Regions from separate parts of the Homo sapiens genome. Here all the other regions are linked to region 3. The links come from fine-mapping of genetic effects on gene expression. A gene starts in region 3. Each other region holds a variant in brackets. All regions are shown on one strand. Distances are between the middles of the regions. Region 1 overlaps ABCA7 (ATP binding cassette subfamily A member 7). Region 2 overlaps ARID3A (AT-rich interaction domain 3A). Region 3 holds the start of WDR18 (WD repeat domain 18).

Region 1 (9,473 bases), 69 kb before region 3:
TTCAGCAGGAACTTCTGGTGCCGAGAACCTGCAGACAATGGGCTGTGCACACTCAAGGGCGCTGCAGGGTCAAGGTGAAGGTCTGTGGGCACCCAGCTTCTGGGGGTTCCTGGAGCCACAGAGGCTCCCAGCTCCCAGGTGGGCACAGGGGATGCTCCAGGTGCCCCCTGAGGCTCCCTGGCCAGGGACCAGATGGGAAAACTGAGGCCAGAGAGGGGAAAGGTCCAGGCCAACAAGACGCCTCACCTGTGGGAGCTATGCTGCACTGGGGGCTCCTCCAGTCCTGCCTCCTGCAGCAGCGCCTCGAGCAGCCGGGCACGTCCAGGGTCCCCTGGGGCGTCCTCACTGTGTGTGAGGGGAGATGTAGGGTCAGGGCTGTACCCCCAGGTCCCTAGTCTTCCTGCCACCAGCCCCTTCCTTCTGCACCCACCTGAAGAAGGACACCTGAGCACCGTACATGGTGGGACTGAGCCGCAGAGCCGGGTAGTGCCCGAAAGGAGGCACGATGAGGCTGAACACGAGGGCCAGGCCCACAAAGAGGGCAGGCAGCACGATCTGGGGGACCAGCCCATCAGCTGCTGCTTCCATCCACCCTCCAGGCTTGCTTGCACCTGTCCCTGCTCCTGCTCTACAACCACCCATGGCTCCCCAGTGCCCTCAATAAATGTGCTTTGGGTTGGGAATACACACGGGGGTAAGGGTTTGGATTAGGCCACTGAGTGGACGGCCAGGGTAGGGAACTCAGGGACTCCCATGCGACTCCCTGGTGCTAGCCCTCCTCACCTGGGCGAACAGGCCGCGGCGGCTGCGGCGGGCAAGCAGAAAGCGCTTGAGAAGCAGGGCCTGGAGCTGCTGGCGGGTCAGTGCCCAGCCCTGTACCCGGCCCACGGCGTCTGGCCCAGAGCCCTGGTCAGTCTCTGGGGCTGACCCAGCTGTGAGGGATGAGAGGGTCAGTGCTCACGCTGCTGTGGGGGGGTGGCTGGGAGGACCCCAGGGCCACTGGGAAGGACTTACCTGGTTCCCCGTTCTCCAGCGCTGTCTCCTGTGGCGGCATCTTGAGCCGTAGGGTTACGTCTAGGCCAGCAATGCCTGTGCATAGGTGCTGCCCGCAGCTGCCATCTGCAGGGCCATCAGGGGTCAGGGTCAAAGTTGAGGGTCACGGATTGGGGGATCAGGAATCAGGTATAGGGTAAAGGCTATGCCTTGGGCCACACTAAGCCAGGGATGGGGACCTGGCCTCTGGTCCCACTCTGGACTGGGGTCAGGGGTCAGGGAGCTGTGGCCGCACCCTCCATATCTGTGTCCGCAGCACACTCCTCCACCACCTTCAGGAAGATCTGGGGAGACAAGCAGGGGCTCAGAGACTGGACACCGACAGGGAGAACTGGGGGCTTGTGAGCCCCCCACCCCTCCTACACCATGGGTCCCCCAGGCCTTCCCAAGGGACATCTGAGCCACCAGAGCTCCTCATGTGCCATGCCTCCTCCCTGAATGTCCTTGCTGCTCATAAACACGCTATTCATCCTTCAAAACACCACCTCCTCCAGGAAGCCCTCCTCCTGGCCCCACCTCACCACCACCCAGGCCTCACACCTCCTCGAGGCTGGTGTCGGAGATCCCGTAGCCAGTGAGCCTCAGCTCCGCCAGCCGCGTGTCTAGCTCTCGGAAGAGTGTGGCGAAGCTGCCGTCATGGGCACCCGTGTAGGGCAGCACCAGCACCAGCTCGTGTGGCAGCTCCTCCACCAGCCGTGCCCCGGGCACCCAGTGCTGTACCAGGGCCAGCAGCTGAGGAGTGCCTGTGTGGACAAAGGGGTGCTTCAGGGAGCCCCGGCTCACGCCCCACCCCAGTCTCCCTGGGGAAGAGGCATTGGTGACCTGTGAGGGGACTGTCCCGGCAGACAGAGATCAGGGTTAAGAACGTAGGCCAGGTGCGGCCGGGCGCAGTGGCTCACGCCTGTAATCCCAGCACTTTGAGGGTTGAAGCAGGCAGATCACCTGAGGTCAGGAGTTTGAGACCAGCCTGACCAACATGGTGAAACCCCATTTCTACCAAAAATGCAAAAATTAGCCAGGCATGGTGGAACCCACCTGTAATCCCAGTTACTCGAGAGGCTGAGGGAGGAGAAATGCTTGAACCCAGGAGGCAGAGGTTGCAGTGAGCTGAGATCACACCACTGCACTACAGCCTGGGCGACAGAGCAAGACTCAGAAACAAACAAAAAGAGATCTTGAGGGCAGTGCTGGACCTAGTGTTGGAGGTCAGGGGTAGGTTTGTCTCTGGGCTCAGCCCTGGTTGGGTTAAAGGTGGGGTCAGTGTTCAAGTTAGTCTCATGGTTCCGGCTCAGCCCAGGGATGGGGGCATCATCTCAGGTTCTCAAGTGCTCTCCTCCTCCTCTCCTTCTCCTCCCCCTCCTCTCCCTCCTCCTCCTCTCCCTCCTACTCCTCCCCCTTCTCCTCCCCCTCCTCTTCCTCCTACTTCTCCCCCTTCTCCTCCCCCTTTCCCTCCCCCTCCTCCTCCCCCTCCTATTCCTCCCCTTCTGCTCCCCTCCTACTCCTCCCCTTCTTCTCCCCCTCCTCCTCTCCCTTCCCCTCCTCCTCCCCCCTTCTCCTCCCCCTCCTCCTCTCCCTCCCCCTCCTCCTCTCCCTCCTACTCCTCCCCTTCGCCTCCCCTTCCACCTCTTACTCCTCCCCCTCCTCCTCCCCCTCCTCCTCCGCCTCAACCTCCTCTGCCGCTTCCTCCCCCTCCTCCTCCTCTTCCCCCTCCCCCTCCTCCTCCTCAAGTTAAGGCACAGCCACCCCACTGCCCACCCGCCTTGGGTCTCCCACCCCGGCCCTCACCGACTCTGCTGCCCTGGCTGCCATTCTTCTTTTCCTGCCTGGTGTCCACACTGCCCTCCATGTCAGTGTCAGCCTGCGGGCAGAGAGGCACCAAGTGGCTTGGCCTTCAGGGCTGAACAGAGTCCCGGGGGTCAGGGGTCAGGAGAAGGCCGGTCCCCACCTTCTCATTGGTGGTCAGGGGCAGGCGGGCCTTCACCAGCGTCAGGTAGTAGCCGGAGCCCAGGTGACGGCGCAGGAAGAGTGGGGAGCCACAGCAGCACAAGCGGCCACCTGCCACCACGGCCACACGGTCTCCCAGCAGCTCTGCCTCATCCAGGTGGTGGGTGGAGAGGATCAGCGTGCGACCTAGGCACGGGGGACCAACCCACAACTACCATCAGGCCGCCGCGTCTTTGCCCGAGCTGGGGCCTCTGCCAGGAGTTGTCTGCCCCATGAAGCAAACTCCTATTCATCCCTCAAAACCTCATCCCCAGAACCTCCTTGTTGGAAACCTTTTCTGGCCCTTCAGGCAGAATCCAGGGGAACCTCTGTCTATCCCCAACTCTTACTGTCTCGGTATTTGAGCAGTAGCCCCTAAATGCCATAGCAACAAGTGGGGTCCACATGTAGCAAACTCCTACTCATTCCTCAAAACCCCATCCCCAGCACTTCCTTGTCAGAAGCCTTTTCTGGCCCCTCGAGCAGAATCCCCAGCTCTTACCTTCTCGGTATTTGAGCAGCAGCTCCCAAATACCGCGGCGGGAAGCAGGATCCACGCCAGCCGTAGGCTCGTCCAGGATAACAACTTGGGAGCCGCCCACAAAGGCAATGGCCACGGACAGCTTCCGTTGCATCCCACCTGGTAGAGATGGGGAAGGGACCTCAGTGTGTCACACCCAGCCTTGGGCAAGGTTGCCTACCCACGTGGACCTCAGTACCCGGCTTCCCCCTGCCTTCAGGATGAATCCCCAGGCCCCTCCCTGTGAGGTGACCTCCCTTGGGGATGGGCTCACCAGAGAGGTGGCGAGTCTGCACACTCTGCTTGGAGACCAGCCCCACATCCTGCAGCAGACGGTCCTGCTCGGGGCCCACTACAGCGGCACTCAGACCCTTCAGCCGCCCATAGAACCAGACGTGCTCGTCCACGGTCAGCCTGCGGCCAGTGCACAGAGCAGAGTGACCCACATGGCAGGCAGAGTCCCAGAGGGCGTCCAGTCCCTTCCCACCGCTGCACTCTGGGCCTGCCGAGACGCACATGTCAAACAGCACGTTGTACTGAGGACAGACGCCCAGGTGGGGCCGGATGGCGGCCATGCTGGAGCGGACGTCGTGGCCCAGGATGAAGGCAGAGCCACCACTGGGTGGGAAGAGGCCACTCAAGATGGACCTGTGGATAGAGGGGTCTCAGAGTAGCCCCCTTCACAGAGTGCAC[T/C]GGCAGTTACAGAGCTTCTATTTTTAATTTCTGTTTTTAAAAAATTTTTAATTATTTATTATTATTATTATTATTATTATTATTATTATTATTTTTGAGACGGAGTTTCACTCTGTTGCCCAGGCTGGAGTGCAGCGGCACGATCTCGGCTCACTGCAAGCTCCACCTCCCGGGTTCACGCCATTCTCCTGCCTCAGCCTCCCGAGTAGCTGGGACTACAGGCGCCCGCCACCATGTCCGGCTAATTTTTTTGCATTTTTAGTAGAGACGGGGTTTCACTGTTTCACCATGTTAGCCAGGATGATCTCAATCTCCTGACCTCGTGATCCACCCGCCTCGGCCCCCCAAAGTGCTGGGATTGCAGGCCTGAGCCACCACGCCTGGCCACAGAGCACCTATTAAATGCTACATCCAAAACCCTGTGATAGCCTTATTTTTATTTATTTGTTTATTTTTATTTTTTTGTGACAGAGTCTCACTCTGTTGCCCAGGCTGGAGTGCAACGGCACAGTCTCGGCTCACTGCAACCTCCGCCTCCAGGGTTCAAGCAGTTCTCCTGCCTCAGCCTCCTGAGTAGCTGGGATTACAGGTGCACGCCACCATCACACCCGGCTAATTTTTGTATTTTTAGTAGAGATGGTTTTGCCATATTGGCCAGGCTGTGTCTCAAACTCTGACCTCAGGCAATCCTCCCACCTCGGCTTGCCCAAGTGCTGGGATTACAGGCGTGAGCCACCACTCCCGCCCTATTTATTTTGAGACAGGGTCTTACTCCGTTGCCCAAGCTGGAGTGCAGTGGCGCCATTACTGCTCACAGGGAGGGACTGGTCGGGGGCCTCACAGGGAGCTCACAGGGAGGAAGTGGTGGGGGGCTCACAGGGAGGGAGTGGTTTGGGCGGCTCACAGGGAGGGAGTGGTGGGGGACTCACAGGGAGGGAGTGGTGGGGGAACTCACAGGGAGGGAGTGGTGGGGGGGCTCACAGGGAGGGAGTGGTGGGGGGGCTCACGGGGAGGGAGCGGTCGGGGGGCTCACAGGGAGGGAGTGGTGGGGGGGCTCACGGGGAGGGAGTGGTGGGGGGTTCACGGGGAGGGAGTGGTGGGGGGGCTCACGGGGAGGGAGTGGTGGGGGGTTCACGGGGAGGGAGTGGTGGGGGGCCTCACGGGGAGGGAGTGGTGGGGGGGCTCACGGGGAGGGAGTGGTGGGGGGTTCACGGGGAGGGAGTGGTGGGGGGGCTCACGGGGAGGGAGTGGTGGGGGGTTCACGGGGAGGGAGTGGTGGGGGGCTCACGGGGAGGGAGTGGTGGGGGGGCTCACGGGGAGGGAGTGGTGGGGGGTTCACGGGGAGGGAGTGGTGGGGGGCTCACGGGGAGGGAGTGGTGGGGGGGCTCACGGGGTGGGAGTGGGGGGGCTCACGGGGAGGGAGTGGTTGGGGGCTCACAGGGTGGTGGTCTTGCCGGCCCCGTTGTGGCCCAGGAAGGCGGTGATGTGGCCCTGGTAGAAGTCCAGGCTGAGCCCCCGCAGGGCTGGCTGCGGGCTTCCAGGAAAGCGCTTCTCCAGGCTGCGAACGGAGACGCCAGGACTCAGGCCGGGCGGTGCCTCTTCTACCAGCACTGCAGAGATGGGGTGGACTCAGCCATGGAGGTCATGGGGGTCCTGGGGCCTGCAAGTCCCTCAGAGCTGGGCTGTGGAATCCGGGACCTGCTGGGCCGGGGCCTATAAAAGCTGCGGGAGCTTGGGGACCGCAGTGTCTTCAGGGCAGGTGTGAGGGTTGGGGTGTCCAGGTCATTGTCATTGGCATCTGTGGAATCTCGTTTTGGGGGGGAACTGGGCATATGTGGACAACCAGCTATTAAGCCTCGTAGTGCCTCACCCTTTGGGTCCAGCGGGGTGGGGCAAGGGGCTGGACTCTTGGGGGGCCGAGGTCCGCACCAGTAGCTCCTCCGAAAAGGAAAATTCCATGGTTCAGGGATCCCGTACTGGCCTGCGGGGAGGGGCGCGGGTTATTGCTTAGCCCACCCCCCAGGAGTGTACCAGGCTTTTTTTGGGGTTTTGTTTTTTTTTTTTTTTGAGACGGAGTCTTGCTCTGTTGCCCAGGCTGGAGTGCAGTGGCACGATTTTGACTCGCTGCAAGCTCCGCCTCCCCAGTTCACGTCATTCTCCTGCCTCAGCCTCCTGAGTAGCTGGGACTACAGGCGCCCGCCACCATGCCTGGATAATTTTTTGTATTTTTGGGAGAGACGGGGTTTCACCGTGTTAGCCAGGATGGTCTCCATCTCCTGACCTCGTGATCTGCCCACCTCGGCCTCCCAAAGTGCTGGGAAAGCAGGCGTGAGCCACCGTGCCCGGCCTTGTTTTTTTTTTTTTTGTTTTTTTTTTTTTGAGACTGAGTTTCACTCTTGTTGCCCAGGCTGGAGTGCAGTGGCGCGATCTCGACTCACCGCAACCTCCGCCTCCGGGATTCAAGCATTTCTCCTGCCTCTGCCTTCCAAGTAGCTAGGAAACAGGCACCCGCCACCACACCCAGCTAATTTTGTATTTTTAGTAGAGACGGGGTTTCTCCATGTTGGTCAGGCTGGTCTCGAAATCCCGACCTCAGATGACCCGCCCGCCTCGGCCTCCCAAAGTGCTGGGATTACAGGCGTGAGCCACCGCACCCAGCCAGCTTTTTTTTTTTTTTTTTTTTTAAAGAGATGGAGGTCTCACTCTGTTGCCCAGGCTGGTGGGATCACGGCTCACAGCAGCCTCAACCTCCTGGGCTCGAGTGATCCTCCCACCCCATCCTCCCGAGTAGCTGGGACTACAGGAGCGTGCCACCACGCCCAGCGTGCCACCACGCCCAGCTAACTTTTTGTATTGATGAGGTCTCACTATATTGCCCAGCCTGGTCTCAAACTCCTGGGCTCAAGCGATTCTCCTGCCTTGGCCTCCCAAAGTGCTGGGATTACAAGCGTGAGCCACAGCGCCCGGCGACTGTGCCAGCTTCTGGCCATACACCTGGAATCAGGGCGTCCAGGTATGAGGCGGCCCAGAAACCCCGCCCACCTGCCTCAGGCCCCGCCCCTCCAATGCAGCCACCTGCATGCGTGTGCCAAGAAGCCCCGCCTTCTCTCCAAGGGAATAAGCCACCCCCCACCCCCAAACGGCCTGGAGGCCACACCCCTAGCTCAGCCTCCCGCAAAGCAGGTGCGACCCGGCCCGGAGCCCCGCCCCCTACGGCCCACCTGGGCACACAGCTTCCAGGTACCAGGTGGCGAGGCCGTAGAGCGCCGCGTCCAGCAGCAGAAGGCCAGAGACCTGGGCCAGGCTGAAGACGTCTGCCGTAGGCCGGGTGCCCACGTTGTGCCACTGCGCGCCCTCGCCCTGCTCCTCCAGCAGAGCCAGGCTCTCGCAGCCGAAGCCGAAGGCCACGGGCGACAGCAGGCTCTGCGGAAAAGCGGGCGGTCAGTGAGCGGCCGAAGCGGGGGGCGTCCCCCATCCACGCCCGACCCGGCTCTCACCGCGGCCACGCGGCCACCCGCGGGCAGCCGGTCCCGCCAAGCCACACACAGCACGTAGGGCAGGTAGAGGGAGAAGTAGGCCAGGCCGCCGCAGGCCGCAGCCAGGTTGGCGCGGGAGAAGAAGGCGCTGAGCAGGAAGCTCTGGGTCACCGTGGCCACCGCGAAGGCTGCCAAGAACAGGAAGACCACGCCCGGGTGGCTGTAGGGGAGGATGTCTCCCAGCTGTGAGAGGCAACGGGAGCTTAGGGTGCAGCTCCTGGATTGGCCTGGGGGCGCGCACCCACGTGGGGCCGCCCCTGTCTGTCACCCTCCAGCGCACCCATTCTGCAGCCGGGCAGGCCGAGGCGCGCCCACCTTGAGCACCAGAACCAGCAGTGCGGCGCTGAGCAGGAAGGGCCCGAGGCAGCTGAGGAACCAGCCTAGCCAGAGCACCGCGCGGCTGAGCCCCATGGCGCGCATGGTGTCCCGCAGCCGCGTCTCCTTCTCCCGCACCACGGCCTTCACTGTCAGTGTCACGGAGTAGATCCAGGCCAGCGTCAGGAAGAGCGGCAGCGACCGGCTCAGCACACGCAGGAACCTGGGGTGGGGACGGCTGGGGTGGAGGCTGGAGACCCTCCGCAGACCCCCCCTCCGCCCACCATCTGGCACGACTGGTTCGTGTCCCGGGATCTCAAGGCGGGAAGATTTGCCTCCCTGTTCCTTGGAACCTGATCCAGCCAGCCTTTGGCTCTCAGGCATCAGTGCAGCCCAGGCTGTCCCTGCGCCGGGGGCCCCCAGACCCTCAGAGTCCCCCCCCCCACCAGACCCTCAGAGTCCCCTGCTCCTCCCGCTGCAGCAGGTCACGTGGAGTGGTGTAAAGGTGCAAAGTTCGCAGCCTGGACCGCAGGAAGGTTCCCAACAGAGCCTGGGCCCACCCCCACACCCGGGACCTTCCCGCCGCGGGGAAGAGCGGGGAGGGGTGCCAGAGCTCACACGTCGTCCACATAGCACGGATAGGGCATCTGCTGCAGGTAGAGGCCGGCCCGGGGGTTGGCGCCGCTGAGCACGCGGACGGCTGCACGCTCCACCAGGTCTTGCAGGTACACGAAGCCGCCCCACACGTAGCGCAGGTCGGTCAGGGGGTCCGCGGCTGGGCCAGGGTCCCAAAACCTGCGAGAGGGGCATGGTGGCCGGTTGTAGGGAAGGGCTAGAAACTCCCGGGGCCCCACCCTGAATAACCTTTTTCTTAGACAGGGTCTTGCTCTGTCGCCCAGGCTGGAGTGAAGAGCTGCAATCATAGCTCACTGCAGCCTTGACCTCCCGGGATCAAACGATCCCCCCAGCTCGGCCTCCCAAGTCGCCTGGCTAATTTTATTCATTTATTCATTTGTTTGAGACGGAGTCTCGCTCTATCGCCCAGGCTGGAGTGCAGTGGCGCCATCTCGGCTCACTGCAACCTCCGCCTCCTGGGTTCAAGCGATTCTCCTGCCTCAGCCTCCTGGGTAGCTGGGCCTACAGGCGCGTGCTACCACGCCCGGCTAATTTTTTGTACTTTTTTTTTTTAGTAGAGGCAGGGTTTCACCGAGTTAGTCAGGATGGTCTTGATCTCCTGACCTCGTGATCCGCCCGCCTCAGCCTCCCAAAGTGCTGGGATTACAGGCGTGAGCCACTGTGCCCGGCCTCACCTGGCTAATTTTTAAAGATATTTTCGTGAGGTTGGTGGGGGAGGGGGGCGGGGGGGAGGCGGT
Region 2 (9,794 bases), 26 kb after region 3:
CCCCCACTTCACTGCACCCTGGATGCTAAGGAGATGACCTGGACTGTCTGTTCTGGGTTGGGGCCCTGAGACTGCCCTGCCCCCCACCAAGGGACCTACCCCTTAGACTCACAGGCGTGCCTCCCGCGTCAAACCTCCATGGCAGGATGTGTTTCCCCCCAAGACACCCCTGAAGTCCCTCCCGATTTAGGAGCCTTGGATGCCTCCAGCCACGGGGTGCTCACCACCGCCCCGACATACCTGGAGCCAGTAGGGCCCCTCCTACAGCCCTGTTTCTGTGACCTCCCTCCAGCGGGGTGGGGGCAGAGGGCTCACCTCGCTTCTGCATGAAGCTGAACAAGTCATCCAGGAATTCCTTCCTCTTGGGGTCCCCGTCGAGTTCGTAGAGCTGTGAGGGTGGAGAGGGGATGGGTTAGTTGGTGCCAGAGCTCAGGTGTGGGAACCATGTCCCTCCTGCACTGGAGGCCAGGTCAGGAGGACAGGAGCAGGGGTCACCACCCCTAGGACCCTCAAGCCGCTGCCAGAGCCGAAGACCCCGCTGGGCAGGTGAAGAACCACAAGGCTGCAAGACAGAAATGCCGGTGAACGAGCTTCCCAGAGGGTCTGCAAGGAGGCACCAGAAACCAGGTGGCCTGGGACAAGACAGTGTCCTCTCCCGGTCCAGGGGCCCGGGAACCCCAGATCAAGGTGCGTCCTGGCTTGTGGCCGCAGCGCTCCAGTCTCTGCCTCCGTCTCCACAAGACCGTCTCCCCGTCTCTCTCTCCTCTTCTCAGGACACCAGCCTGCTGGTTTTAGGGCCACCTCATCTCAAATCGATCCTTAACTCCCTTACAGCCACACGTTGCAGCTTAAAGCAACAGAAATCTATTCTCCCGCGGTCCCGGAGCCCAGAAGTCCAAAACCAACTTCTCTTCAGGGTGGCGGCTCACACCTGTAATCCCAGCACCTTGGGAGGCGGGTGAATCGCTTGAGCCCGGGAATTCAAGACCAGCCTGGGCAACATAGTGAGACCCCATCTCTACATTATGATAACAAAAAGTTACCCAGGTGGGGTGGCTCATGCCTACAGTCCCGGCTACTCGGGAGGCTGAGGTGGGAGGATTGCTTGAGCCTGGGCAGTGGAGGCTGAAGTGAGCCGAGACCGCACCACTGCACTCCAGCCTGGGCGACAGAACGCAACCCTGTCTCTAAAAACAAAACAAAACAAAAGATGTCTGCAGGGTTGCGTTCCCTCCGAAGTCTCCAAGGGAGGAACCTTCCTGCCTCTCACGGCTTCTGGGGGCTCCAGGTTCCTGGGCTTGTGGCCGCGTCGCTCCAGCCTCTGCCTCTGTCTTCGTGCAGGATGCGTCCTGATAAATGTCTGTTGGTGATTTCGTCAGTGTGAACATCAAACAGTGAGTCACACACACCTCACGGGTGGAGCCTCCCACACACCCAGGCACAGGCACAGCCCAGCCAGCGCTCCTGGGCTACAAATCTGTGGCTGTCCTGGGTCCCGTAGGCAGTGGCAACGTGAGCATGAGTGTCTGTGCGTCTAACACAGCTGAACACAGAAAAGGTGCACAAGAAATATGGAATTTTTTTTTTTTTGAGACGGAGTCTCGCTGTCCCCAGGCTGGAGTGCAGGGGTGCAATCTCGGCTCACCGCAACCTCCGCCTCCCGGGTTCACTCCATTCTCCTGCCTCAGCCTCCCGAGTAGCTGGGACTACAGGCGCCCGCCACCACGCCCGGATAATTTTTTGTATTTTTAGTAGAGACGGGGCTTCACCGTGTTAGCCAGGATGGTCTCGATCTCCTGACCTCGTGATCCGCCCGCCTCGGCCTCCCAAAGTGCTGGGATTACAGGCGTGAGCCACTAGAAATATGGAATTCTAATCCTGTGGGACCACCGTCCCATCTGCGGTCTGAGGTTGACCAAAGTGTCAACACGTGATTGTATGTCAGTAAGTTCCCCCGTTTCCAAATGAGGTCCTGTCACAGGTACTGGGAATCCAGTGCTTGAACCTGTCCTCTTCTTTTCTTTTTCTTTCTTCTTTTTTTTTTTTTTTTTTGAGATGGAGTCTCGCTCTGTCGCCCAGGCTGGAGTGCAGTGGCGCGATCTTGGCCCACTGCAAGCTCCACCTCCCGGGTTCACGCCATTCTCCTGCCTCAGCCTCTTGGAGTAGCTGGGACTACAGGCGCCCGCCACCACGCCCGGCTAATTTTTTTGTATTTTTAGTAGAGACGGAGTTTCACCATTTGGCCAGGATGGTCTCCTGACCTCGTGATCCGACTGCCTCAGTCTCCTAAAGTGCTGGGATTATGGGCATGAGCCACTGCGCCCAGCCTATTTTTTTTTTTAATTTTAATTTTTATTATTATTATTTTTAGATGGAGTCTCGCTCTGTCGCCCAGGCTGGAGTGCAATGGCGCAATCTCAGCTCGCTGCAACCTCTGTCTCCGGGGCTCAAGCAATTCTCCCCCCTCAGCCTCCTGAGTAGCTGGGATTACAGGCACCTGCCACTATGCCCAGCTAATTTTTGTATTTTTTGGGTAGAGACAGGGTTTCACTATTTGGCGAGGCTGGTCTTGAACTCCTGACCTCAAGTGATCCGCCTGCCACAGCCTCCCAAAGTCTTTTTTTTGTTTGTTTTTGGAGACAGGGTCTCACTCTGTTGCCCAGCCTGGAGTGCAGTGGCGCAATCATAGCTCACTGCAGCCTCAACCTCCTGGGCTCAAGGGATTCTCCTGCCTCAGCTGCCCAAGTGGCTGGGACCACAGGCACTCGCCATCACACCC[G/T]GCTAAGTTTTTACATTTTCTTTTGTAGAGATGGGTCTTTCTATGTTGCCCTGGCTGGTCTCGACCTCCTGGGCTCCCTCGATCCTCACGTGTTGCCTTCTCAAAGTGCTGGGGTCACAGGCGGGAGCCACCGCCCTCCACCTTTTCTTTGGGGGACACAATTTACCCTAGGACAGTGCCTGCCTGAGTTCACACAGCAAATCGCTGCAAAAATTCACCAGCATGCCTCCCGGGGCTGTCCTGAGGGTCGGACGGGAGCGCATTTGTTCCGAGAACTGGCTCTGCTTTGCAGGTGAGGAAACTGAGACACAGCGGCGAGTGCGGGACCAGAGCCTGGGGGCTGCTGGGGACTTGGCCCAGAGCCCCGCCCTGCTTCCCATCCCGGTCCTCCTGTCTCCTGCTGGCTTCCCCGCACCTGGAGCCTGGAGTCTCAGCCTCCAGCTATGAAATGAGCCACCGACCGCCTCTGCCTGCCAGGGTGGTGGCTGGGGAGGAAGAAGATCACCAGGCCCCGGAACGTCTTCCAGAGGGGAAAGAGGCTCCGTCTGGGGTACAAGGAGCCAGGAGGTCCCCCAGCGCCCCCCCCCACCCACAGGTTCGGGCGGGCAGGGTGGGGGAAAGCCGGCAGGGATAATTAGAAAGCGGAGTTCAGGCGGGGGCCAATTTGCCGAGGAGGAGCTGCGACAAATACCAGGCTGCCAATTAAGCTCGGGGGAATGTGGCTGGCTGGGCAGTGGGGAGCCTTGAAACCACCAATTAGGCCTCAGCTGGGATGATCGGTCATTAGGGCCCAGAAGGAGACCCACGCCCAGCCCCTGCTGCTGCGGGGACATCCCAGGTGCTGGGGAGGCCGGCCAAAGGCCCCATCACCCTGCAGCCGTCCTGCCCCTCTCTGGGCCTCAGTTTCCCCGTCTGTGTATTGGAGGCCCAGTGAGGCCTTCCGGGAAGGGGCTGGGGGGGCAGCCAGGAGTCCTGACCTCTGCCCTGGGTGGTCGAGGCTGCCCGAGGTCCAGCTGCCTGGTCTTTGTCTCCGCCCCAACCCGGCCAGCGCCAGACTGGCCAGCCTGCATTCCTGCGCTGATTTATGGTGGCCGGGGAGGCCCTTTCCCCTTCAGCTGCCTGAGGGGTGTGGGGCCCTCAGGTAGACCCGGCTGGCCGGGCCGGTGGGTCCCATGAGCACAGGCACGCACACATGGCCACACGCCCGGCCTCGTCCTCTGACCCCGGCCCGGCTGCCGCCCCCTCCCCTCCACGTTCTTCCTCCGAGACCCCGTCCATCACCGAGTCACGGATCTAGGAGTGTATCTGGGGTTTAGTCTGTTTTGTTCCCAGAGTCTGGAATCAGCCGAGCACACAGCAGTTGCCTAATAAATGCTCGTTACTTGAACCTTGATTTTCTCAGCTGCAAAAGTGAGCCGGGCAGGGCGGAGAGGGGGACAGGGCGGAGAGGGGGACAGGACGAGCTTGCCAGGGAAACGCCTGAGGCAGCAGGTACTGGAATGGGGAGGACTTCACCGCTGGGGCTGTCCTGGGGTGAACGCCATCCCCCACCCAAATTCACATCGGCCCAGAACCTCAGAACGAGACGTTATTTGGAAAAAGGGCCTTTGCAGACGTGATCAAATTGAGAAAAAGTCACAGTGAAGGCCGGTGGGCACTGGAGACGGTCGCACAGAGACAGAGGCCGGCCACATGTCAAGGGACTCCTGGAGCCCCCAGGAGCTGGGAGAGGCGGAAGGCTCCTCCTGCAGCCCCTGGAGGGAGCGCAGCCCTGCGGACGCCTCGATTTTGGACTCTGGGCTCCAGGACGGAGGGAGAACAGGTTTCGTTTGTTTTACGCCCGCGGTTTGAGGTCCTTCGTTACGCAGCCCCCCGGCTAAGAACCGCACGTAGAGGCCAGCACACCTTGGGCCCTTCCAGGGCGAGCGGAAGGTCCTCTCCTCTGAGATTCTGACCCGGTATTACGGGGTCTACCCTGCCTGGACCCCCCCTTCCCTGGCACAGCCCCTACAAGAAACCTCACCGCACCTCCTGCCTCAGTTTCCCCATCTCTCAAATAGAGTGTGTGAGAAAACACAGCAGCTTTACCCCAAGCACCTGGCGCCCCAGCTACCCTCACATCCCGGATGGGGAAACCGAGGCGCCAGGCAGCAATCAGCTGCCCCATGTACAGCCAGCCAAGGTTGGGGTTGGAGAGGGGAGCCATTAACTCCCAGGCCAAATGGTGGGCGAACTGGGCCGGTGGCGAGGCACGGTCAGACCCCTGTGGGGCCGGGGCACTGATGCGTGGCAGTAAAGGGAGGACCTGCGGGGGCCCCAGCTGCTGGCGGGGGAGGCGGCTCTAATGGCCGTTGCTGTGGGCAGCCAGCAACAAAGCCAGCAGTAAAGGCCGCCTGGGCTTTATGGGTCTCTGGCCCCCGGTTCCGCTCCCCTGTGGGGGGCGCCCCGCCCTGGCCAGCTGGCCGAGGCCCCAGGGATGGGAAAGCAGGGGACGGTGTCCAGGCTGCCCATGGCGGTGTCCAGGCCCCCCTTGTGGGCCAGATCCCGGGTTGAACTGCTGGGCCACAGCACACCCCATGGCAAACCCAGGCCTTGGTTCTCACCTGGGTTCTGTGGCCGAAACCCTGCCCCTCTGAAACGTCAACCAGAAAGCTCTGAAATCAGCCGCCCACCACACACCCACAGGAGCCCTAAACCCAGGCTGGAGATTGGGCAAAATCTCCGGAAACTCCCTCCCCAGGGGCTGAGGGCCGAGATAAGCGGCCCGCACTCCCCTCCACGCCGCCTGACCTCCCTGGGGCCTGCTCTGATCACGGGAGGGGTCGGGTGTGAAGTTCTGAAGGTGCCCCTCCGCTGAGACCCCCACCGCCCCCCATCAGCCCCGAGCGGCCGCCTTCGCCCCGGCTGTTCCTCCCGTCTGCGAGGCCTTCTCAGCCCCTTCCCTTCGTCTGGGTCCCCTGTGGTCATTCCCTCCCTGGAGGGGAGCCCCCCGTCCTCCCAGGACCGATATCACCTCCGCAGATGCTCTGCTCCCACCCACCTTTACCGACCACCGGCCTCACGGGGTTTCTGGCTCACGGCCCCCCTTGGACCCCCAGCCCTCGCATGGCCCCAGCTGTGTGGATTCACGCATTTGTCTCTCGTCTGTCTGCCCTGGAACATGCGGAATTCTTATCTTGTTGCCAGCATCCAAAATCGGGCACACAGCAGTTGCCTAATAAATGCATGTTAAATGAACTTGCTTTCTCAGTGCGATGCCAAGAAAATGCGGGGCCACAGGGCAGGCCTGGGGGTCTTTCCCTGAGGGGGTCCCCTCCCCTCTGTCCACTTCCTGCTGTGGGGGATGGAAGGTGTGGACCCCTAATTACCAAGGCTGGGCCCATCGTCTCCCCTTCCCAGCACCACCTGCTTCGGAGAAGGGGAAACCGAGGCACAGAGCGCGTGGAGCCAAGCCACCTCCAGGTCCCCCGGCCGCCCCTCCTGCCAGACCCTTCCCCACTCAGCAGTTGGGTGGGGTGGGGGGTTTTTCACAGACATCTGAGCATGACCCTCCCTCGGCCACAGCCTCCCAGGGCCCCCCAGCACCCTCCTGGCCCCTCCCTGCCCTCTCCTGCTCCCTCCGCCCCGGCCTTGAGCTGCCCTATTTAGGGACAGGGTCTCGCTCTGTCACTCAGGCTGGAGTGCAGTGGTGAGACCCTAGCTCACTGCAGCCTCCACCTCCCACCTCGGTCTCCTGAGCCAATGAGACCACAGGCAGGCACCACCACGCTCGGCTAATTTTTGTATTTCTATAGAGACAAGGTCTTGCTATATTGCTCAGGCTGGTCTCAAACTCCTGGCCTTAAGTGATCCTCCTGCCTCAGCCTCCCACAGCGCTGGGATTACAGGCAGGAGCCCCCAGACCCAGCCTTGGCGTCTTTCTATGTAAAACGCACAGGCCCCCACCCCAGGGCCTCCGCGGCGCTGTTCCTTCTGCCTGGAATGCAGCTCCCGGGTCCCCGCTCGGCTCCTGCCTTCCCGCCCAAACGTCGCCTTCTGACAGAGCCCCCTCCACAGCCCCCCTCAGCCTCTGACCCCTTCATTCCTCTTTGGTTTTCTTCCCAGAAGGTTGCACGCCCGAGCCCCGTTACACGGATCTGCAAGACACACTCCGTGGCTCTGGGGATGGAGGGAAGACGCTGTGGCCCCCGACCCTGACACTCCCCCGGCTCTGCACGGGGGGGGGTGTGGGAGGCCTGGGGGGGTGGGAGGTGCCGCCCCCACCTGATGAGGACCGGGCCCCTCTGGAGGGGGCACCTGTGAGGAGAGAGGGTGGCGGGGCTCGGGTGGTGGCGCCGGTGGGGGAGGGGAGGAAAAAGTGAGATAACCGCCACCCCCCAGCCCTGGAAGGGCAAACAGGAAATTCTTGTTTGTGGCGAAACGTTGATGATTTTCTCCACCCCACCTCCCAGAGAAACGACAGCTCCGAGGGGGTCAGTGGAGTCTGCTGGCGGACAGGGTGCAAGATAAGTCCCAGGGCCACCTGGGAGTGGGGAGGGGGTTCCCCGGCTGCCCGGACCACCCCTAGAACCAGGGAGTTCAGCCCCGGCTCAGGACTCCCCTCCCCAGCCCACCGGCTCTGGGAGGTGGGAGGAAGGTCAGAAAAAGACCCCAGAGGTTTGCAGAAAATCCAAGGAAAGGGTTGGCCAGGACAGAAGAGGGTGGCCGGGGCCAGCACATGCGGCCCCTCCCCCAGCAGTGCCCAAGGTCACAGGTGGGCAGTGCCCAAGGTCACAGGGGGGCTATGGTTTCCCCACTCAGTCCCCAGGCAGGCCCCACCTGGGCACTCCCACCAGGTCCCAGCAGCTGCGGGGGGCCCAGGGCGGTGTCCTTGGGCCCAGAGGCCCAGGCTGTAAAGAAACCGCCTGTCTGCAGGGCCCCCTGGGAGAACCTTTGCCCCCCAGGCCCCCTCCAGTCTCCCAGGAGGCTCCAAAGTCCATGAGGCCCCACCTGGGGATGAGGCCACGGCAGGGGTGGGAGGGGTGCAGGAGCTGGGAGGCACCTGGTCAGCTGCAGCCCTTCAGACGCTCTCTTTGGCCACAGAATTCAGGGAAATCCAAGAAAGAATCCAAGTGTCTAGCGTTTGGGGACTGCCGAGCCCTGAGCCTCCAGGAGGGTTGGCCTGACTGAGCCTCCAGGAGGGTTGGCCCGAGACTTGGCAGAGAGATGTCAGAAGAAGAGAAATTTTCTTTCCTTTTTTTTTTTTTTTTTTTTTTTTTTGAGACAGGGTCTCGCTCTGTGGCCCAGGCTGGAGTGCACTGGCACGATCACAGCTCACTGCAGCCTCAGCCTCTCAGGCTCAAGTGATCCTCCTGCCTCAGCCTCTGGAGTAGTTGGGACCCCAGGCACACACCACCATGCCCAGTTTTAACTTTTTTTTGTAGAGATGGGGTCTTGCTATGTTGCCCAGGCTGGGTACAAACTCCTGGGCTCAAGTGATCCTCCCTCCTCGGCCTCCCAGAGTGCTGGGATTCTGGGCATGAACCACCACGCCCAGCCTGAGACACTTTGTTTTTGTTTTGAGACCGAGTCTCGCTCTGTCGCTCAGGCTGGAGTACAGTGGTGTGACCTCAGCTCACTGCAACCTCCGCCTCCCGGGTTCAAACGATTCTCCTGCCCCAGCCTCCCAAGTAGGTGGGATTACCGGCACGTGCCACCACACCTGGCTAATTTTTTTTTTAAATTTTTTGCAGAGACGGGGTTTCACCATGTTGGCCAAGCTGGTCTTGAACTCCTGACCTCAGGCCATCCTCCCGCCTCTGCCTCTCGAAGTGCTGGGATTCTGGGTATGAGCCACTGTGCCCAGCCTGAGAAATGTTCTAAAAGGCACGTTTTTGCACTGTCCAATATGGCTTCTGGGAAACTGAAGAAGTATGTTTTCCTCTAAGGCCAGATATAGGTCTGCGGATGCTCAGAAGCAGCAGCAATAGATCTGAGTCAGCAGCCGCCCCCTCCGGGCAGCAGCCTGAGCCTCCCAGGCGCCCACGCACCCAGCGGGGCTGAAGGGTCAGAGGGAAAAAGAGAATTCATCCAACAGCCAGGCCCACCCAGACCAGCCGGGGAACTCTGAGGTTTGGTTCTTTAGTCTACGTTGTTTTTTTTCCTTTTTTTGAGACAGGGTCTTACTCTGTCGCCCAGGCTGGAGTGCAGTGATGCAGTCATAGCTCACTGCAGCCTCCTGGGCTCAAGTGATCCTCCCACCTCAGCCTCCCGATTAGGTGGGACCACAGGCACCTGCCACCACTCCTGGCTAATTTTTGTATTTTTAGTAGAGATGGGGTTTCACACCATGTTGGCCAGGCTGGTCTTGAACTCCTGACCTTGTGATCCGCCCGCCTCGGCCTCCCAAAGTGCTGGGATTACAGGCATGAGCCACCGCGCCTGGCCTTAAAAGATCTTATAAAAGGCTGGGTGTGGTGGCTCACGCCTGTAATCCCAGCACGTTGGGAGGCCAAGGCAGAAGGATCACTTGAGCCCAGGAGTTTGAGATCAGCCTCAGCAACACAGCGAGACCCCGTCTCTTCTTTAAGAAAGAATCCTGGCCGGGCATAGTGGCTCACGCCTGTAATCCCAGCACTTAGGGAGGCTGAGGCGGGCGGATCACCTGAGGTCAGGAGTTTGAGACCAGCCTGACCAACATGGAGAAACCCCATCTCTATCAAAAATACAAAATAGGCCAGGCGTGGTGGTGCATGCCCGTAACCCCAGCTACTCAAGAGGCTGAGGCAGGAGAATAGTTTGAACCCGGGAGGCAGAGGTTGTGGTGAGCTGAGATCGTGCCATTGCACTCCAGCCTGGGAAACAAGAGTGAAACTCCACCTCAAAAAAAAAACAAAATAAAGAACTAATTCACTGTGACTCCTACAACCAAAGTTAAACTGAAAGAGCTGCTTTTTATCTCCCAAATCCCCATGAAGCAGCCAGGATGGTAAATGAGATGCCCTCTCCTTCCAGCAGCCTCCAAGGTCGGAGGGAC
Region 3 (9,488 bases):
GGCCGAGGCGGGTGGATCACCTGAGGTCAGGAGTTGGAGACCAGCCTGACCAACATTGTGAAGCCCTTCTCTACTAAATACAAACAAATTAGCCAGGTGTGGTGGTGGGCGCCTGGAATCCCAGCTACTCAGGAGACTGAGACAGGAGGATTGCTTGAACCTGGGAGGCAGAGGTTGCATTGACTACCGGCATGAGCCACTGCGCCCGGCCGCCCTTTATAACTTTCAAGTCACAAGTGCCAGGCGCTGCCGCCTGCGTGGAAGAGATGCCCGCTAGCCCTGGAAGATGCTGCGGTGTGTGAGTGCCGGGGACTGGGCTGCACCGGGCTCTATCCAAGCACTCAAGGCAGGATTAGGGCTGGTCTGGGATTCGCAAGTCTCGAGGGGACCTGGAGAAAGGAGGCAGCAGGGTGAAGCTTAGGCTATAACCCCTGAGCAGTCACCCATCCCAGGGCCCCAGGCCGCATGGTTGTTCCCTGGTGCCCTGCAGGCAAAGCTCAGATGGGCTGAGATGTCCTGTGGGAAACGCTCACGCTTTGCTCCTCTTACCTCCCACAGGTGGATGCTTTCTGCAACTCCTGCCAGGACGTAGAGACCATTGGGTGATGCAGTCAGACAGGTGACAGGCCCGGGGCACATGATCTTCTGCTGGAGCTGGTCCTAAGGATGCACAGTCAGCCTCGTGAGCCCCATGCAGGACACGGGAGCTACTACAGCAGTGGAGGGCGAGGGGAGGGGACGCCTGGGCAATGGCTAAGTCAGAGAACCAGGAAGAGGAGTCGGGAGCAGGGTGGTTTGAGCAAATGCATGGTCCAGCAAGGAAGTGTTCGCCCCTGCAAGAGGCTTCGAGGCTGGAGGTGGTAGATGTGAGGTTGGTGCTTCCTCTGAGGGTCAGAGGGGCCCTGGGTGGGAGGAGTACAGGAACAGAACAAAGAGGATCCAGAAGGACACTGGGGCCCAAGAGCCCAGTAGGCTTGTGCCCCAATCCTTCTATCCATAATGTCCAACCTAAGACCCCAAGCCTCAGCTTCCTCCTCTCTAAAATGGGAAAACTCAGCCGGGCGTGGTGGCTCACGGCTGTAATCCCAGCACTTTGGGAGGCTGAGGTGGGCAGATCACTTGAGGTCAGGAGTTCGAGACCAGCCTGGCCAACATGGTGAAACCCTGCCTCTACAAAAAATACAAATGTGGGCCGGGTGTGGTGGTTGGTGCGGGCCTGTAGTTGCAGCTACTCAGGAGGCTGAGGCCCGAGAATCGCTTGAACCCTAGAGGCAGAGGCTGCAGTGAGCCGAGATCGCACCACTGCACTCCAGCCTCAGCGACAGAGTGAGACCCTGTCTCAAAACTAAAATAAAATGGGAGAAATTTATGAGTTGTGTGTAGACTCCATCAGGCAATGCTGGAGCACAGAGCCAGTCCCAAGAGATCTCAGCGGGCACACGGGGGAAGCGAGTAGCTTCAGGGACTGGCTGCATTTGGGCTTGGGAGTAGAGGGGAAACTGTGGGCGACGGTGAGTATCTGTTGCTTTATTGGAGGAATAAACATGAGTTTCCTGCGCCACCCCTTCATGGGAGACTCCCCCAGACCTTGGTCCTTCTCCCTTTTCCTCCAGAACCACAACATCCACAGAGCTCATAGGCCCCTTTTAATCAAATTTCGCGCTCCAAGAACTCGTGCATGCGCAATTGCCCCAAGGGACCCCCCGGAGCGTCTCCCATTTTCCCCCACTGCCCCCATAGCAGCTCAGGCCTGAGCCCCGCGCGTGCGCAGAGCGGCCTAACAGGTCGCACGTATCTCCCCAAAGCCCCCAGACCCGCGCATGCGCAGAGCGCCCGAACGGAGACCACCTCCCCTCCCCACGCCAATTCCGACTAAGGGTGCACGCGGCCCCCACCAACCCATCCCCCGACTTCAGCCTCGGGCGCCCCATGACCCCAGCAGCGAGACCGCACCGCCGCACCTTCCGCTGGAGCTCCCAGGCGCTGATGTAATTCTTGCCCAGCTGCGCCGCCAGCAGATACTCGCCATTGAGCAGCGCCAGGCCGCGGGGTCCCGCCTGGCCGCCGCGGTAGGTGAGCAGGTTGGCGCCCGAGTGAAGTTCCCACACGATGCAGCTCCACATCGGGGCCGCCGAGTCCGTACACACGGCCACCTCCATGGGCGCCGCCATCTTGCCTTCCCCACCGCCCCGGACGTGCGTCATCATGAGCGAGACGCGGACGACTGCCCCACGCGGGCCAGAGCGGCGGCCCCGCGGCCCCAGCGGGTGGCCGACCCGCGCATGCGCCCGTGCCTCGGAGAGAGGGGCTTTCTTGTGAAGTGGGATTTCCCGCTTACCTGAGACTCGAGGGTCGCGCGGCCTGCTTAGAGATCTGGGGAGGCGACTTCTTCCAAGGCCCAGGGTCTCCGGCGATCAGTTAGTAGCTCTAGAGCCGGGGTACCTGACTTGGCCTTTTCCTCCTGGGCATTTTTGGCCAAGTGACTCAAGCTCTTGGATTCATTTATTTTTAAATGTTCAAATAATAAAGTTCCGACGTCACAGGCCTAAATGACACATTGCGCCTAAAAGAGAGAGCGCACACCCAGCAACATGGCTAGTTGGCGATGAATACATTGGAATTCACTGCTTCCTTATTTATTTAGTTTTGTAGAGCCAGGGTCTCACTGTCCTGCCCAGGCTGGCCTCGAACTCCTGAGCTCAAGTGATCCTCCCAGCTCGGCCTGCCAAAGTGCTGGGATTACAGGCGTGAGCCACCGCGCCCGGCCCAGTGTTTCCTTATTGGTCGACATCTGCCTCCCCCTTGACCCCTCTTTAGGGGCCTCAACATCTAAATTATTAGTCGGATAGCTTGGTGTAGGTCAAACAAGTCGCCAGTTCTGTCCGAGCCAAGCAGGGTCTAACTTCATGTCACGGCTGCCCGTCACGGACCATGTCTGAAAACGGCATTCAAAAAAAAAAAAAGGCCGGGCGCTTTGGCTCAGGCCTGTAATCCCAGCACTTTGGGAGGCCGAGGTGGGTGGATTACCTGAGATCAGGAGTTCGAGACTACCCTGGCCAACATGGCGAAACCCCGTCTTTACAAAAAGTACAAAAAGCCGGGCGTGGTGGGAGGCTGAGGCAGGAGAATCGCTTGAACCCGGGAGGCGGAGGTCTCAGTGAGCCGAGATCCCAGGCACTCCAGCCTGGGCGAATGAGACTCTGTCTCAAAGAAAAACATATATCTATTATTTATTTATACTAAATATATATCTAGTAGAGATGGGGGGTCTCACTGTGTTGCTCAGGCTGGTCTCCAACACCTGGGCTTAGGCCTTGGCCTCTTAAACCGCTGGGATTACAGGCTTCAGCCACAACGTCCGGCCTAAAAACAGTATGATTTAAAATGTGCAATTAGTTGCCAACCCCTTAAAAAGGGATAAAAAGGGAGCATTCATTTAAAAGTCGGGATTTCCGCCCGGGGGTTGCAGCTGACCTGGGTCGTGTGCCCTCGAGCAGCAAGAGGCAGGGGCTGGAGGCTGCATGCGGGGTGCGGTCCCCGGAGGCGGTGCGACTCCTGGTCCGCGGCTCCCGGCGGAGGGCACGGCCGGGGCAGGAGGCTGGTGCCAGAGCGTGCGGCGCCGCAGCCCCGCTGGCCGCCAGGTGGCAGGCGCGAGCCACCGACCCCGAGCCCAGGCCAGAGGGAGGGCGGCCCCGGGGACCCGCCTGGTCGGCAGGAGGGGCCGTTTGAGCGGGGAGCCAGCGACCCCCAGAGAACCGTGTGCGGGGCAGGCCCGTGCGAAGGCCCTGGGGCAGGACCACGGAGCGGGGCCGGGCCGTGCAGGGCCGTGTGAACGAGGCCTGGATTTCATTTTATCCTGGGAGGGAGGGAGGGAGTCCAATCCAAGGACCTGCTGTGCCTCCAGAGTTTCCTCCAACCTCATTTTTATTTTCTTTCTTTATTTTGCGACAGTCTTGCTCTGTGGCCCAGGTTGGAGTGCAATGGTGCGATCTCGGCTCACTGCTACCTCTGCCTCCCGGGTTCAAGCGATTCTCCTGTCTCAGCCTCCCGAGTAGCTGGGATTACAGGTGTGAGCCGCCACGCCCAGCTAAGTTTTGTATTTTTAGTAGAGACGGAGTTTCACCACGTTGGCCAGGCTGGTCTCGAACTCCTGACCTCAGGTGATCTGCCCGTCTCGGCCTCTCAAAGTGCTGGGATTACAGGCGTCAGCTACTGAGGCCGGCCTCCAACATTATTTAAAAAACATTATTTAAAAAAATCGGCGGGGCGTGGTGGCTCCGGCCTGTAATCCCAGCACTTTGGGAGACCGAGGTGGGTGGATCACGAGATCAAGATCATCCTGGATAACAAGGTGAAACCCGTCTCTACTAAAAATACAAAAATTAGCTGGGCACAGTGGTGCATGCCTGTAATCCCAGCTACTCGGGAGGCTGAGGCAGGAGAATCGTGCAATCATGGCTCACTGTAGTCTCCAATTCCTGGGCTCAAGCCATCCTCCCACCTCAGCTTCCCGAGTAGCTGGAACCATAGGAACCACACTCAACTAATTTTGTGCTTTTTTTTTTTCTTTTTTTGCAGCGACAGGGTCTTGCTTTATTGCCCAGCTGGTCTTAAACTCCCGGGCTCAAATGATGCTCCCACCTTGGCCTCCCGAAGGGTTGGGATTACAGACATGAGCCACTGTGCCTGGCCTTGTTTTAATTTTTACTTTATTTATTTTTGTTTTTTGTAGACAAGCAGGAGAGGTGGATCTCACTCTGTTGCCCAGGCTGGAGTGCAGTGGCGTGATCTCAGCTCACTTCGACCTCCGCCTCCTGGCTTCAAGTGGTTTTCCTGCCTCAGCCTCCTGAATAGCTGGCATTGCAGGTGTTCACCACCACGCCCGGCTAATTTTTGTAGTTTTAGTAGAGACGGGGTTTCACCATGTTGGCCAGGCTGGTCTCGAACACCTGACCTCAGGTGATCCACCTGCCTCAGCCTCCCAAAGTGCTGGGATTACAGGCGTGAGGCACCGCACCTGGCCTTTTTTTTCATTTTTCTTTTTCTTTTTTTCTTTTGAAATTGAGTCTTGCTCTTGTTGCCCAGGCTGGAGTGCAATGGCACAATCAGCTCACTGCAACCTCCGCCTTCTGGTTTCCAGCGATTCTCCTGCCTCACCCTCCGGAGTAGCTGGGACTACAGGCATGTGCCACCATGCCCGGCTAATTTATTTTGTATTTTTAGTAGAGACGGGGTTTCACCATGTTGGCCAGGCTGGTCTCAAACTCCTGACCTCGTGATTTGCCCGCCTCAGCCTCCCAAAGTGCTGGGATTACAGGCGTGAGCCACTGCGCCTGGTTCATTTTTAGTTTTTCTTAACAGAGTCTGGCCCTGTCGCCCAGGCTGGAGTGCAGTGGTACCGTCATAGCTCACTGCAGCCTCAACCTCCAGGGCTCAAGCGATCCTCCCACCTTAGCCTCCCGGGACCACAGGTGCACACCACCACACCTGACTAGCGTTTTAATTTTTCATAGATAGGGGCTCTCGCCGTGTTGCCCAGGCTGGTCTTGAACTCCTGGGTTGAAACCATCCTCCTTCCTCGACCTCCCAGGGTGCTGGGATTACAGGCATGAGCCACCGCCTGGCCCAGCCTGGAAGTTTTTAAATTCCCGGGTTCCAGGACACCCAGCAGACCGGGCAGGTGTGGGCTGCTGCCACAGGCAGGAGAGGGCAGGGGCAGCAGGAAGTCGATGGACTACAGTCTCCACCTTCTCACAGGCCTCCTGCTGCGGCCCAGCCCGAGCCAGGCCTTCCTCCCCTCCTCCCCTCCCTGGGGACGTGGCCAGGCCAGGCTGCAGTGTGAGGTCAGAGGTCACCCCGCCCCCAGCCTGGTTCCTGGAATGAGGACAGACTAATCGTGTTGGAGCAGGGGACAGAAGCCACACTTTGGGGGCATCTCCAGACCACCCAGCGGCCGGATCTCGTTGGTGCCAGCTGGAGGTTGTGAAGGGGGGGTAACCAGGAAGGGGAAACTGAGGCACAGAGGCAGGAACGTTCCCCTCGGGGTGTAAGGCCCTCATTCTCCATCCCCTGCACATTTATGGAGCACCGCCAGTTTGCAGGCACTGATGAACCCAGCCAGACCCCAGTCGGCTTGGCTGCCCCGGTCCTGGCCCCACAGACCCAGCAGCTGCGGCCGTCCCGCGGCAGCCCCATCATTACCTATGCCAGTGGGGAGAGCAGCAGCCGGCTCTGGTAGCCCTCTGCTTTTGGAAGCGTCTCAGCCGCCGCCTCTCCAGTCTGGACTCTTGGCTGGCTCCGAAAATCGGCTATCAGAGGAGGGTTTGAGCTTCACCTCCGGGAGCCTCCCGCCCTCCTAGCAAGCACCTAGCAGGCGGCCCAGGGAGGTGGCTGGGCTCTGAGAGGCTAGGGGGTGGCTGGGCCCTTCCTGGGCTGGGGAGGAGGTGAGGGGCTGAGTCCATCCCTGGCTGGGGAGGGAGGTGGGGGCCTGGGGAGGAGGTGGGGGGCTGAGTCCCTCCTTGGCTGGGGAGGGAGGTGGGGGCCTGGGGAGGAGGTGGGGGGCTGAGTCCCTCCTTGGCTGGGGAGGGAGGTGGGGGCCTGGGGAGGAGGTGGGGGGCTGAGTCCCTCCTTGGCTGGGGAGGGAGGTGGGGGCCTGGGGAGGAGGTGGGGGGCTGAGTCCCTCCCTGGCTGGGGAGAGGTGGGGGCCTGGGGAGGAGGTGGGGGGCTGAGTCCCTCCCTGGCTGGGGAGAGCTGGGGGCTGAGTCCCTCCCTCCCAGGCTGGGGAACTCAGAGGTGCACCCCCTCCCTGACTCCCCGCCTCTGAGGCCCTCAGCTGCGGGTGAACAAGCAGGGCCTGACGATCCAGTTTGGGGTGGGGGCTTTCCCAGGGTTCTTCCCTCCTCTCCCTGGGGCCGGCGGGCTCCTCCAGGCAGTGAGTGGGACTCCATCTCCGGGACGCAGGGTTTGGCAGACTCATTTCTGGCTGGAATGGAAAATGCCATTTTCCCTTCCGGGGCCAGGGTCTAACGTGGGTTTCAGGAACCAACCGGCTGGGACAGGTGTGGGGGTGTTGTTGGTCCCTCGCCTCCAACACAGCCCTGGGGAGGGACGTGTCCCGGCCAGCCTCGGCCAGGATGGTGCGCGGGAGGCCGGGCAGCTGAGTCTGGGCCTGTCCACCTCCAGCCACGCTGACCCTCCTCCAGTCACGTCCCCTGGGCGTGGGCAATGGGAGGGTGGACAGTGGGTTAGGCGGCCCAGGAAACCCTTTCCTGGGAAAACGTTGCAATACCACTTTCTTTGGGTTTGTGGGCTAAGAACGAGAGGCCTTTTATTTTTTAATTTTTAATTAATTAATTAGTTAATGTTTTTAGAGACGGAGTCTCGCTCTATCACCCAGGCTGGAGTGCAGTGGCGTGATCTCGACTCACTGCAAGCTCCGCCTCTGGGTTCATGCCATTCCCCTGCCTCAGCCTCCCTGAGTAGCTGGGACTACAGGCGCCCGCCACTACGCCCAGCTAATTTCTTGTATTTTTAGTAGAGACGGGGTTTCACCATATTGGCCAGGCTGGTCTCGATCTCCTGACCTCGTGATCCACCCGCCTCGGCCTCCCAAAGGGCTGGGATTACAGGCATGAGCCACCACGCCCGGCCTAATTAATGTTTTTAGAGATGGAGTCTTGCTCTGTCACCCAGGCTGGAGTGCAGTGGGTTGATCTCAGCTCACTGCAACCTCTGCCTCCCAGATTCTAGCAATTCTCCTGCCTCAGCCTCCCAAGAAGCTGGGACTACAGGTGCACACCACCACGCCCAGCTAATTTTTTTTATTTTAGTAGAGACAGGGTTTTGCCATGTTGCCCAGACCGGTCTCGAACTCCCGAGCTCAGGCAATCCACCCACCTTGGCCTCCCAAAGTGCTAGGATTACAGGCGTAAGCCACCGTGCCCGGCCTTTTATTATTATTTTTAAGAGACAGGGTCCCGGCTGGCCCTGTGTGGCCAAGGTGGGTGTTATCATTTGAGGTCAGGAGTTCGAGACCAGCCTGGCCAACATGGTGAAAACCCAACCCGTTGCTACTAAAAGCACAAAAATTAGCCAGGCGTGGTGCCGCGTGCCTGTAATCCCAGCTACCTGGGAGGTTGAGTTGGGAGAATCGCTTGAACCCAGGAGGCAGAGGTTGTAATGAGCCAAGATTGTGCCATTGCACTCCAGCCTGGTTGACACAGTGAGACCCTGATTCAAAAAAAAAAAAAAAAGGGGCCAGGCACAGTGGCTCATGCCTGTAATCCCAGCACTTTAGGAGGCCAAGGCAGGCAAATCACGAGGTCAGGATATCGAGGCCATCCTGGCCAACATGGTGGAACCCCATCTCTACTAAAAATACAAAAATTAGCCGGGTGTGGTGGCGGGCGCCTATACTCCCAGCTACTCGGGAGGCTGAGGCAGGAGAATTGCTTGAACCTGGGAGGCAGAGGTTGGAGTGAGCCGAGAATGCACCACTGCACCCCAGCCTGGGAGAAAGAGCGAGACTTCGTCTCAAAAAAAAAAAAGAGAGAGAGAGAGACAGGGTCTTGCTGTTGCCCAGGCTGGAGTACAATGGCATGATCACTGTTCACCGCAGCCACCATGCCCGGCTTTTTTTTTTTTTTTTAATTTCTGGTAGAAATGGGGTCTCCCTATGTTGCCCAGGCTGGTCTCAAACTCCTGGGCTCTATCCATCCTCCCGCTCCAGCCTCCGAGTGTTGGGATTACGGGTGTGAACCTCTGACCCCAGCTGAGTCCCTTTACTATGTTCTGGGTTTGGGGGCTGCAAACTGGCTGTCCAGGGGCCAAATCTGGCCCTTGGTCTTGTTTCCTAGGACCCGAATGGTGTTGTAAGGGAAAAGGTGAAAATGTGGCCAGCACTGGAAAAGTTCCCTCCCCCAGCCACCAGGACGCCCCTGAACCCCAGAGGCCTCAGCTCCAGGCGGCTTCACCAGTGGGCTGGTTCCTGGGCTCGCCTAGGAGGTGAAGGAGGGCAAACTTATGGGGGGCTCGGGAACAGGGTGTCCCGCTCGGCACAAGGGCCTCCATCTGGGCCGCACAGAGGGCGGAGGAGCGGGGAGCCCCGTGCCTCCCACCCGAGGGGCCGCACCCTCCTGTCATGGGCAGGCGGGGACTGTGTGTCGGCTGCAGAGGATGGAAAGGAGTCTGTCAGAGCAAAGGGGGAGAGGGCTGTTCCCGGCGGTGGAACAGCTGTGTGAAGGCCCTGAGGCCGGACCGGGCCACTTGCCCTGGGAGCTCCGGTCGGATAACGCCAGGGGCGCCCGCATGCAGAGCCCTGTTGAGGCAGGAGGCGAGGGGTCAGGCTCGTGGGCAGGTGGCTGGGGGTGCGCACACTGGCCCTGCCACACCTGTCATCCCAAATCCCTAAAACGGGATTGGTGTCGGGCTCTCAGCGAGGCACAGAGGTGCCCAGAGCGGCCTCCAGGAGCTCCCCTCGGCCCTGTGGA

What was found. PIP is the estimated chance that this variant, and not a neighbour inherited with it, causes the effect.
Region 1: its variant is fine-mapped to the expression of WDR18 in subcutaneous fat (TwinsUK, PIP 0.95).
Region 2: its variant is fine-mapped to the expression of WDR18 in nucleus accumbens (GTEx, PIP 0.95).

What each region holds. Positions count from the first base shown.
Region 1 is chr19:1,045,652-1,055,124 of GRCh38, reverse strand. It overlaps ABCA7 (ATP binding cassette subfamily A member 7), which reads right to left. Exons shown (of 47, transcript NM_019112.4): 13 at 8,719-8,895; 14 at 8,101-8,323; 15 at 7,747-7,968; 16 at 7,471-7,672; 17 at 6,120-6,230; 18 at 5,688-5,859; 19 at 4,073-4,204; 20 at 3,831-3,970; 21 at 3,539-3,676; 22 at 2,999-3,183; 23 at 2,839-2,911; 24 at 1,594-1,796; 25 at 1,289-1,337; 26 at 1,015-1,119; 4 more. Among named protein-coding and RNA genes, the nearest start is that of ABCA7, 10 kb to the right of the region's middle. RefSeq lists silencers at 3,388-3,588, 3,845-4,009. The variant T/C (reference allele first, on the strand shown) is at 4,250.
Region 2 is chr19:950,686-960,479 of GRCh38, reverse strand. ARID3A (AT-rich interaction domain 3A) reads right to left here. Exons shown (of 9, transcript NM_005224.3): 4 at 316-388. Among named protein-coding and RNA genes, the nearest start is that of WDR18, 29 kb to the left of the region's middle. RefSeq lists silencers at 2,634-2,826, 5,057-5,316, 6,522-6,730 and enhancers at 3,202-3,903, 4,606-5,307, 6,712-7,413, 7,414-8,115, 8,834-8,913. The variant G/T (reference allele first, on the strand shown) is at 2,780.
Region 3 is chr19:977,037-986,524 of GRCh38, reverse strand. It overlaps WDR18 (WD repeat domain 18), which reads right to left and starts at 2,180. Exons shown (of 10, transcript NM_024100.4): 1 at 1,962-2,180; 2 at 550-660. The coding sequence starts at 2,171. RefSeq lists enhancers at 1,861-2,040, 2,071-2,220, 1,645-2,586, 5,775-5,919, 5,870-6,460, silencers at 2,271-2,360, 3,525-3,914 and a cis regulatory region at 5,841-5,854.